2 linked regions of the Homo sapiens genome follow. The protein of the gene in region 2 interacts with the protein of the main gene of each other region in a biochemical or structural test. Each region holds a gene or a part of one and is shown on either strand. Other genes may lie near its edges.

Region 1 (3,749 bases), on a different chromosome or scaffold from region 2:
GGCACATGTATACCTATGCAACAAACCTGCACGTTCTGCACATGTATCTCAGAACTTAAACTATAATTTAAAAAAAAATTATCTTCATCTATAGAAATTAGAAGTATAAGTTGATCAGGTTAATCAAAAAATTCTGTTTATAACTTGGAGCTAATGTTAACTGTCTTGTTTCTTAGAATTGTACAATGAGGTGCCGGGCACGGTGGTTCATGCCTGTAGTCCCAGCACTTTGGGAGGCTGAGGCGGGTGGATTACCTGAAGTTGGGAGTTTGAGACCAGCCTGACCAACATGGAGAAACCCCGTCTCTACTAAAAATACAAAATTAGCTGGGCGTGGTGGCACATGCCTGTAATCCCAACTACTCGGGAAGCTGAGGCAGGAGAATCACTTGAACCCGGGAGGTGGAGCTTGCGGTGAGCCGAGATCGCGCCATTGCACTCCAGCCTGGGCAACAAGAGTGAAACTCCATCTCAAAAAAAAAAAGAAAAAAAAAAAGAATTGTACAATGAGGTAAAATAAAATCATATAGTTGAAACTACTGCCAAGTACAGTGGCTCATACCTGTAATCCCAGCACTCTTGGAGGCCAAGGCAGGCAGATCACTTGAGCACAGGAGTTCGAGACCAGCCTGGGCAACATGGCAAGACCCCGTCTCTACAAAAAAAATATAAAAAAGTAGCTGGGTGTGGTGGTGTGCATCTGTGTGAGGCTGAGATGGGAGGATCACCTAAGCCTGGGAGATCCAAGCTGTAGTGAGCCTCAGTCATCACACCACTGCACTCCAGCCTGGGCAACGGAGTGAGGCCTGTCTCAAAAAAAAAAAAAAAAAAAAAAAAAAGAAGTACTTTGAAACTATCAAGTAAACCATATTAATTTAAAACCAGGCCGGGCGCGGTGGCTCATGCCTGTAATCCCAGCACCTGGGGAGGCCAAGGTGGGCGGATCACTAGGTCAGGAGATCGAGACCATCCTGGCTAGCACGGTGAAACCCGTCTCTACTAAAAATACAAAAAATTAGCTGGGCGTGGTGGTGGGCGCCTGTAGTCCCAGCTACCCGGGAGGCTGAGGCAGGAGAATGGTGTGAACCCTGGAGGCGGAGCTTGCACTGAGCCAAGATAGTGCCACTGCGTCCGGCCTGGGCGAAAGAGTGAGACTCCGTCTCAAAAAAATAAATAAATAAATAAAATAAAATAAATGAAAACCACACTAGGCCAGGCACAGTGGCTCACGTCTGTAATCCCAGCACTTTGGGATGCCGAGGCAGGCAGATCACCTGAGGTCTGGAGTTTGAGACCAGCCCGACCAACACAGAGAAACCCCATCTCTACTAAAAATACAAAAGTTAGCTGGGTGTGGTGGTGCATGCCTGTAGTCCCAGCTACTCAGGAGGCTGAGGCAGGAGAATCACTTGAACCCAGGAGGCAGAGGTTGCAATAAGCCGAGATGGCGCCAATGCACTCCAGCCTGGGCAACAAGAGCAAAACCCCATCTCAAAAAACAAACAAACAAACAAAACTAATTAAAATCAATTAGGGAAAGCTTTTTAGAATAGGTTGTTGGAGCTAGATTTGGAAAGAAAAGTAAGGATATAAATTACTAATGTACAGAGGTAGAAGAGAGTGACCCAAGGCTGAGGACATTTCTAGGTGCCTTATGCCCGCTCAGAGGCCCACCTCACAGAGCTGCTGGAGGAGATATGTGACCGGATGAAGGAGTATGGGGAACAGATTGATCCTTCCACCCATCGCAAGAACTACGTACGTGTAGTGGGCCGGAATGGAGAATCCAGTGAACTGGACCTACAAGGCATCCGAATCGACTCAGATATTAGCGGCACCCTCAAGTTTGCGGTGAGCTATGGGAATCGGTAGCTGGTTCTTGGACATTAAGGGGTTGTTGGAGAACCAATTAGAAAGTTAGGCTGATATCCTTGTCCTCCTCTTTGGAAGTGAAGGCAAGAGGCCTCTTATTGCCCTGTGTCACCCATTTCTCCCTTGGGTTGGCAGTGTGAGAGCATTGTGGAGGAATACGAGGATGAACTCATTGAATTCTTTTCCCGAGAGGCTGACAATGTTAAAGACAAACTTTGCAGTAAGCGAACAGGTAAGCTGCCCCCACTTTATCTCCTGTTCTAGTAGCTCTGTGGAACCTGACATTCCCTAACTCACCCATACACCCCCATCCCAGAAACCTCTGGTATTAGGTCAAGAGCTGTCTTCCATTTCCCTTGGCTTAGGGACTTGGGGTGTTCCTCCACATTTTCTGTCAGCTTTCAGAATTTGTGTCCCCTTGACCCTGAGATACAGGTGAGAGGACAGTGGGGATGTTTTATCATTTATAAGCATATATTCTGCAGAATGGTGGTTGGTGTGTGTTTGTGTCAGCTTGGTCTGGGAAATTTTCTTGATACTGGCAGATATCAGTATGAGAATGGCATATTCCTTTAAATTGTTTGCCATTTGCAGATCTTTGTGACCATGCCCTGCACATATCGCATGATGAGCTATGAACCACTGGAGCAGCCCACACTGGCTTGATGGATCACCCCCAGGAGGGGAAAATGGTGGCAATGCCTTTTATATATTATGTTTTTACTGAAATTAACTGAAAAAATATGAAACCAAAAGTACAAACTGTGTTGTCTTTTCATGCCTGGAATTGCCCTTACATTAAGCTTGAAGATAAGGAGTTATATAGACAGGAAAGATAATGGAGGAGAAAGAAGAGTTTTGGGATTGATACAGGATAAAGGTAGGAGAGGCCTGAACCTTTAATTCTTCTACCTTCTGAGATTCCACTCCACTCATAAACTAGATAAGCTTTCAGTCAGTGCCCACTCAATACCACGTCTTTAGAGTCTAATTGTGGAGAATAGAGGAACCTCCATGAGGAAGCAGGGGAACATAGTGTATGGTAGTGTAGAATTCTAGAAATCCCTTGTGTTCATGGCTGTTGAAACATAAAGTAAGACAGGGCTTGGTCTTGAAGGAAATAACGGATATGCATTATTCTTCCTTCCCTGCCCATCCAGATGGAGGGACCAGCAAGAACAGAGACAGGAAGGGGAAAATGGATGTGACCAACTCAGCTGAAAAGTAAGGGCTTTATCGGATAGGGACAGACGAGGTAAGGAAGGTTGTTTAATGAGAGGCCTTGCTTGCCAGCCTAAGCTTTTAAATTTGATGCCAGTGGCAACAATAAAGTGTATCTATCACTAGCCATTGTCAATCTGGACTATAAGTCTGTCCACAATTCTGTGTGTAGAGATTCCAGACTGGGGCATAGGGATGAAAACCTAAAGGATACCTTCTTTTGGGAAATTCTTTTTTTCTTTTTTTTTCTGAGATGGAGTCCCGCTCTGTCGCCTAGGCTGGAGTACAGTGGCGCGATCTCGGCTCACTACAAGCTCTGCCTCCCAGGTTCACGCCATTATCCTGACTCAGCCTCCCGAGTAGCTGGGACTACAGGCGCCCGCCACCACACCGGCTAATTTTTTTTTTTTTTTTTTTGTGAGACAGAGTCTCGCTCTATCGCCCAGGCTGGAGTACAGTGGCGCGATCTCGGCTTACTGCAAGCTTCGCCTCCCGGGTTCACACCATTCTCCTGCCTCAGCCTCCCAAGTAGCTGGGACTATAGGCACCCGCCACCACGCCCGGCTAATTTTTTGTATTTTTAGTAGAGACGGGGTTTCACCATGTTAGCCAGGATGGTCTCGATCTCCTGACTTCGTGATCCGCCCGCCTTGGCC
Region 2 (3,749 bases):
TCTGAAACTTCTAGCAATTAAGCATAAAGTAGACAAGGAATGAACCAAACGCTATCTTCCAGATAAATTCCCCAGATTATTAGTAAACTGGAATTCAGGGAATAGGCACTGCAGTTAATACAAGAAGGGACTGTTTCAGCCCACAATAGCATGAGGTGTATTTATAAGACAGAAAGATGTGAGAGTGCACCTGTTCCTCTGCAACAGTGGGGGTTAGGACTTGGACAGTTTACAGTTTTACTCGGTCAGCTTTAGCAAAGAACTGTGTGTGGGAGGATCCCTCCTTTTTTTTTAGCCTTGGGCTCTGATATCGTACCTGGTTGTTCGGAAATAAAGGCCACTAACAGATCCTTGGGACTCGTGAAGGGGGGTAGGGACAGGAAAAGTCATCATTAAGCAGTGAAGGCACTGAACTTATAGCTCCCCTTACATACACGGGGACATTCAAATGCTTTTGTGAACGTTATTATCTTTGCTGCGCTTCCCAACAATGCTGGGTGGAGACAGAGCAGATATTGCCATCTCCATTTTACTGTTGACAACACCAAGCTTCAGACAGATGAAGTAAGTTTTCTCTTTTTTTTTCTTTCGTTGTTTTCTTTTTGTTGTTGTTGTTGTTTAGAGACAGGGTCTTTTGCTCTGTCGCCTAGGCTGGAGTGCAGTAGGGGGATCACAGCACACTGCAGCCTCGAACTCCCAGGCTCAAGTGATCCTCCCACCTCAGCCTCCCATGTAGCTGAGACTACAGGCAGGCGCCACCACGCCTGGCTAATTTTTTGTATTTTGTGTAGAGATGGGGTTTCGCTGTGTTGCGAAACCGGGCTGGTCTCAAACTGCTGGGCTCAGGCGATCCTCCTGCCTCGGCCTCCAAAAGTGCTGGGATTACAGGTGTGAGCCATCGAGCTGGCCTGAAGTAAGTTTGCTAAGTTTCCACGGCTGAAACCCACATCATCTGGCTCCTATAAAGAAATCAAAAAGGTAGGCTATGTAATATATTGGCAAAGAGGAACAAGCGGTAAATGAGTGAAGGGTTGTAGACCTTTAATAGCTAATATTGCAGTAATGCCACCTGTTAGGTCAGGAGATGAGCACCTTACCTTAAGACGAGGACAACATCTGGTTGCCTGTGAGAAGGGACAGGCAGGGTATCAGGTGCTGCACAAATGTTTAATGAATGAGTGAGATAAGACAGGAGGTAGAATGAGCAACCTGAGAGAGGGCCTGGTACCCTGTAAGGCGTTTTGATTCAGCAGAACGAGTAAGGAGAAGCCCTTCCGGAGTGTAACACACCAGCACTAGACCAAGACACCTGGCTCACTGGTCAGCTGCAAAAACTTTCATACTCAGATTTTGTTTTTCTCAATGATGAGGTCTTAATAAGGAACAACAATTCTGCCTCCAAGCAACCCACTGTGGCTAATCCTGGTGGAAAAGAGTTTTCTTTTTCTCTTTTTTTTTTCTTTTTTCTTTTTCTTTTCTTTTTTTTTTTTTTTTTTTTTTTTTTTTTGAGACAGGGTTTTTTGCTCTTCTTGCCCAAGCTACAGTGCAGTGACACAATCTCAGCTCACTGCAACCTCCGCCTCCTGGGTTCAAGCGATTCTCCTGCCTCAGCCTCCCAGGTAGCTGGGATTACAGGTGCCCGCCACCACGCCTGGCTATTTTGTTTTTTTTTTTGTATTTTTAGTAGAGACGGGGGTTTCACCATGTTTGCCAGGCTGGTCTCGAATCTGACCTCAGGTGATCCACCCATCTCGGCCTCCCAAAGTGCTGGGATTACAGGCGTGAGCCACCATGCCCGGACGAGAACAGTTTTCTTTAGGCTTTGGGTTGCTCCTTTTCCTTTTTGCTTTCACAACCGAAATGCGTGCTCAGAGTGATCCAAGATATTTGAAGAACAGTGGCAGCTTGGAGGTGTTTAATCACCGTAAATTCGAGACGGCAGAAAGGCGTCCCCGCCTGGAGCCCCGGGCGATCGCTCACTCTGAGCAGCGTCGCCCAGCGGACAGAGGCGGCTGGTGTGTTCCGGGGTCTCCCTCCCTTCCCGCAGCACTCGGCGCCCGCAAGCTGCCACCTCCCGGGGCGGCCAGGGAAACTCAGCCGGCTCTGGGAGGCGGGGGCCGCGGTCGAGGGGCGCCGCTATTGGCTGATCGGGCGGGGGAGGAGGGGCAGGGAGGCCGTGATTGGCGGGGACCCGAGCTGAAGGGGGCGGGGCCGCTATATCAGCAGAGTCCCTGTCGCAGCGCAGGCAGTTGGGCTGCTGGAGTGCGGCGCCACCGCGGAGGACAGGGGCAGCTGGCGGGCAGCGGGTGAGGGGGTGGCGGGGACGCGAGTGGCGGCCGCGGGGCCCCGGACAAGGGTCCGCAGAGCTGCAGCCTTCGAGGGCCAGCCCTCTCCGAGTCCGGGGCTGGGTCCCACCAGTGACAAGGCGGCAGCCCCGCGCACACCAAAGAGAAGGCGGCTGTGGCGGCAGCGGCAGCCCCAGCCATGCTGTGTTATGTGACGAGGCCGGACGCGGTGCTGATGGAGGTGGAGGTGGAGGCGAAAGCCAACGGCGAGGACTGCCTCAACCAGGTGAGGGCGAGGGGCAAGAAGGGGCCCCGGCGGGTCCCGCGAGGCCGAGGGGCCTCGCAGCGACGCCTGGCACTCTGGCGCGCCCCCTACTAGGGGCCGGGAGGCACTGCGGCGGCAGCCGGGGGGAGCGCGTCCCCTCCTCTCCACGGGCGTGGGGCGCGCGGTCTCCTCCTGGCGCGCGTGGGGTGCGCGGAGAAAGCGCGCAGCGGGGGTCCCCAGCGCTGAGGGCCGGGCGCAGCCCGCAGCCGGGATCCACCCCCCAGCGCCCCATCATCCCCCCAACCCAGCACTTTCCCGGAAGAAGGCGGCTCCGCACACCTGCCGCAGGTATGTGCGTGATGCCGCCTGTCGGGTCCCCGCGGCGCCTGGCAGTGCCACCCGCGTGCCAGGATGGGATGGAGTGGCTCGAAGCAGTCTCGGGCCCCAGGGGTTCTTGGCAGACAAGCCGGGCCCTTGTCTCACGCTGCTTCTCAGGCTGCTGCTCTCAAATGCACCGTTCACCTGCATCTCCGGGTTTGCGGGGGACGGGAGGAATAGGTTTGGGTCATCTACTGCTCGGTTGTTTTTAAGCATGTGTTTCCTTAACAGTGAGGGAGATCGGTGCCAAATAGTGCAGAGGTGGTATGGCAGACAGCACATGTGATCCCAGGAAAACGCTGTGCCCTCAACCCCTCTAGCTCTGAGATGTTTGGAAAACCGCTTGTGAAGCTTAGCTGACACTTGTGGCGTGTTCCCTCAATGTGTTTGATTTTTGGAGTCCAAATGGTTAAAATTGCCCAGATAATAAGTCGCCAAAAATCAGCTGTGCAGAGTATGCTGGTGGAGGGAATTCCGGTGATTGGAATACGAAGGAAAATACCCTGTAGTTTCCCCTCCTCATCTTTTGGAAGGCTACTTTTGAGGACTCCTTTTTTCTCTATTGCAATTGGTCATGCCCTAGACGTTAAAAGGAATTATGAGCCTCCATACTAGAGCTCGTGGTTTGGTATCATTGGAGCCGTGGAACTTTGTTTTTCCAGTTTAGATCAGGAATTGTAACACCATTGAACTTTGTAAAAAGCACCAGCAATCTTAGCCTCAGGGAGCCGTTGGGTTTGCTTTGATACGTACCATTTGCTCATCCAGGCTGCATTCCTTTTTGTTTTAGGTGTGCAGGCGACTGGGAATCATAGAAGTTG

Evidence for each region.
Region 1: the proteins of MYLIP (region 2) and CNPY2 form a complex in vitro, tested with the Homo sapiens proteins (2 studies listed by BioGRID).

What each region holds. Positions count from the first base shown.
Region 1 is NC_000012.12:56,309,313-56,313,061, reverse strand, and holds the end of CNPY2 (protein canopy homolog 2 isoform 1 precursor), read left to right. Parts: intron 1-562; exon of another isoform or gene 563-1,647; coding exon 1,648-1,851; intron 1,852-2,007; coding exon 2,008-2,104; intron 2,105-2,466; coding exon 2,467-2,510; 3' UTR 2,511-3,218; downstream 3,219-3,749. UniProt on the Homo sapiens protein: Positive regulator of neurite outgrowth by stabilizing myosin regulatory light chain (MRLC). It prevents MIR-mediated MRLC ubiquitination and its subsequent proteasomal degradation.
Region 2 is NC_000006.12:16,126,839-16,130,587, forward strand, and holds the start of MYLIP (E3 ubiquitin-protein ligase MYLIP), read left to right. Parts: upstream 1-2,247; 5' UTR 2,248-2,484; coding exon 2,485-2,571; intron 2,572-3,718; coding exon 3,719-3,749. UniProt on the Homo sapiens protein: E3 ubiquitin-protein ligase that mediates ubiquitination and subsequent proteasomal degradation of myosin regulatory light chain (MRLC), LDLR, VLDLR and LRP8. Activity depends on E2 enzymes of the UBE2D family.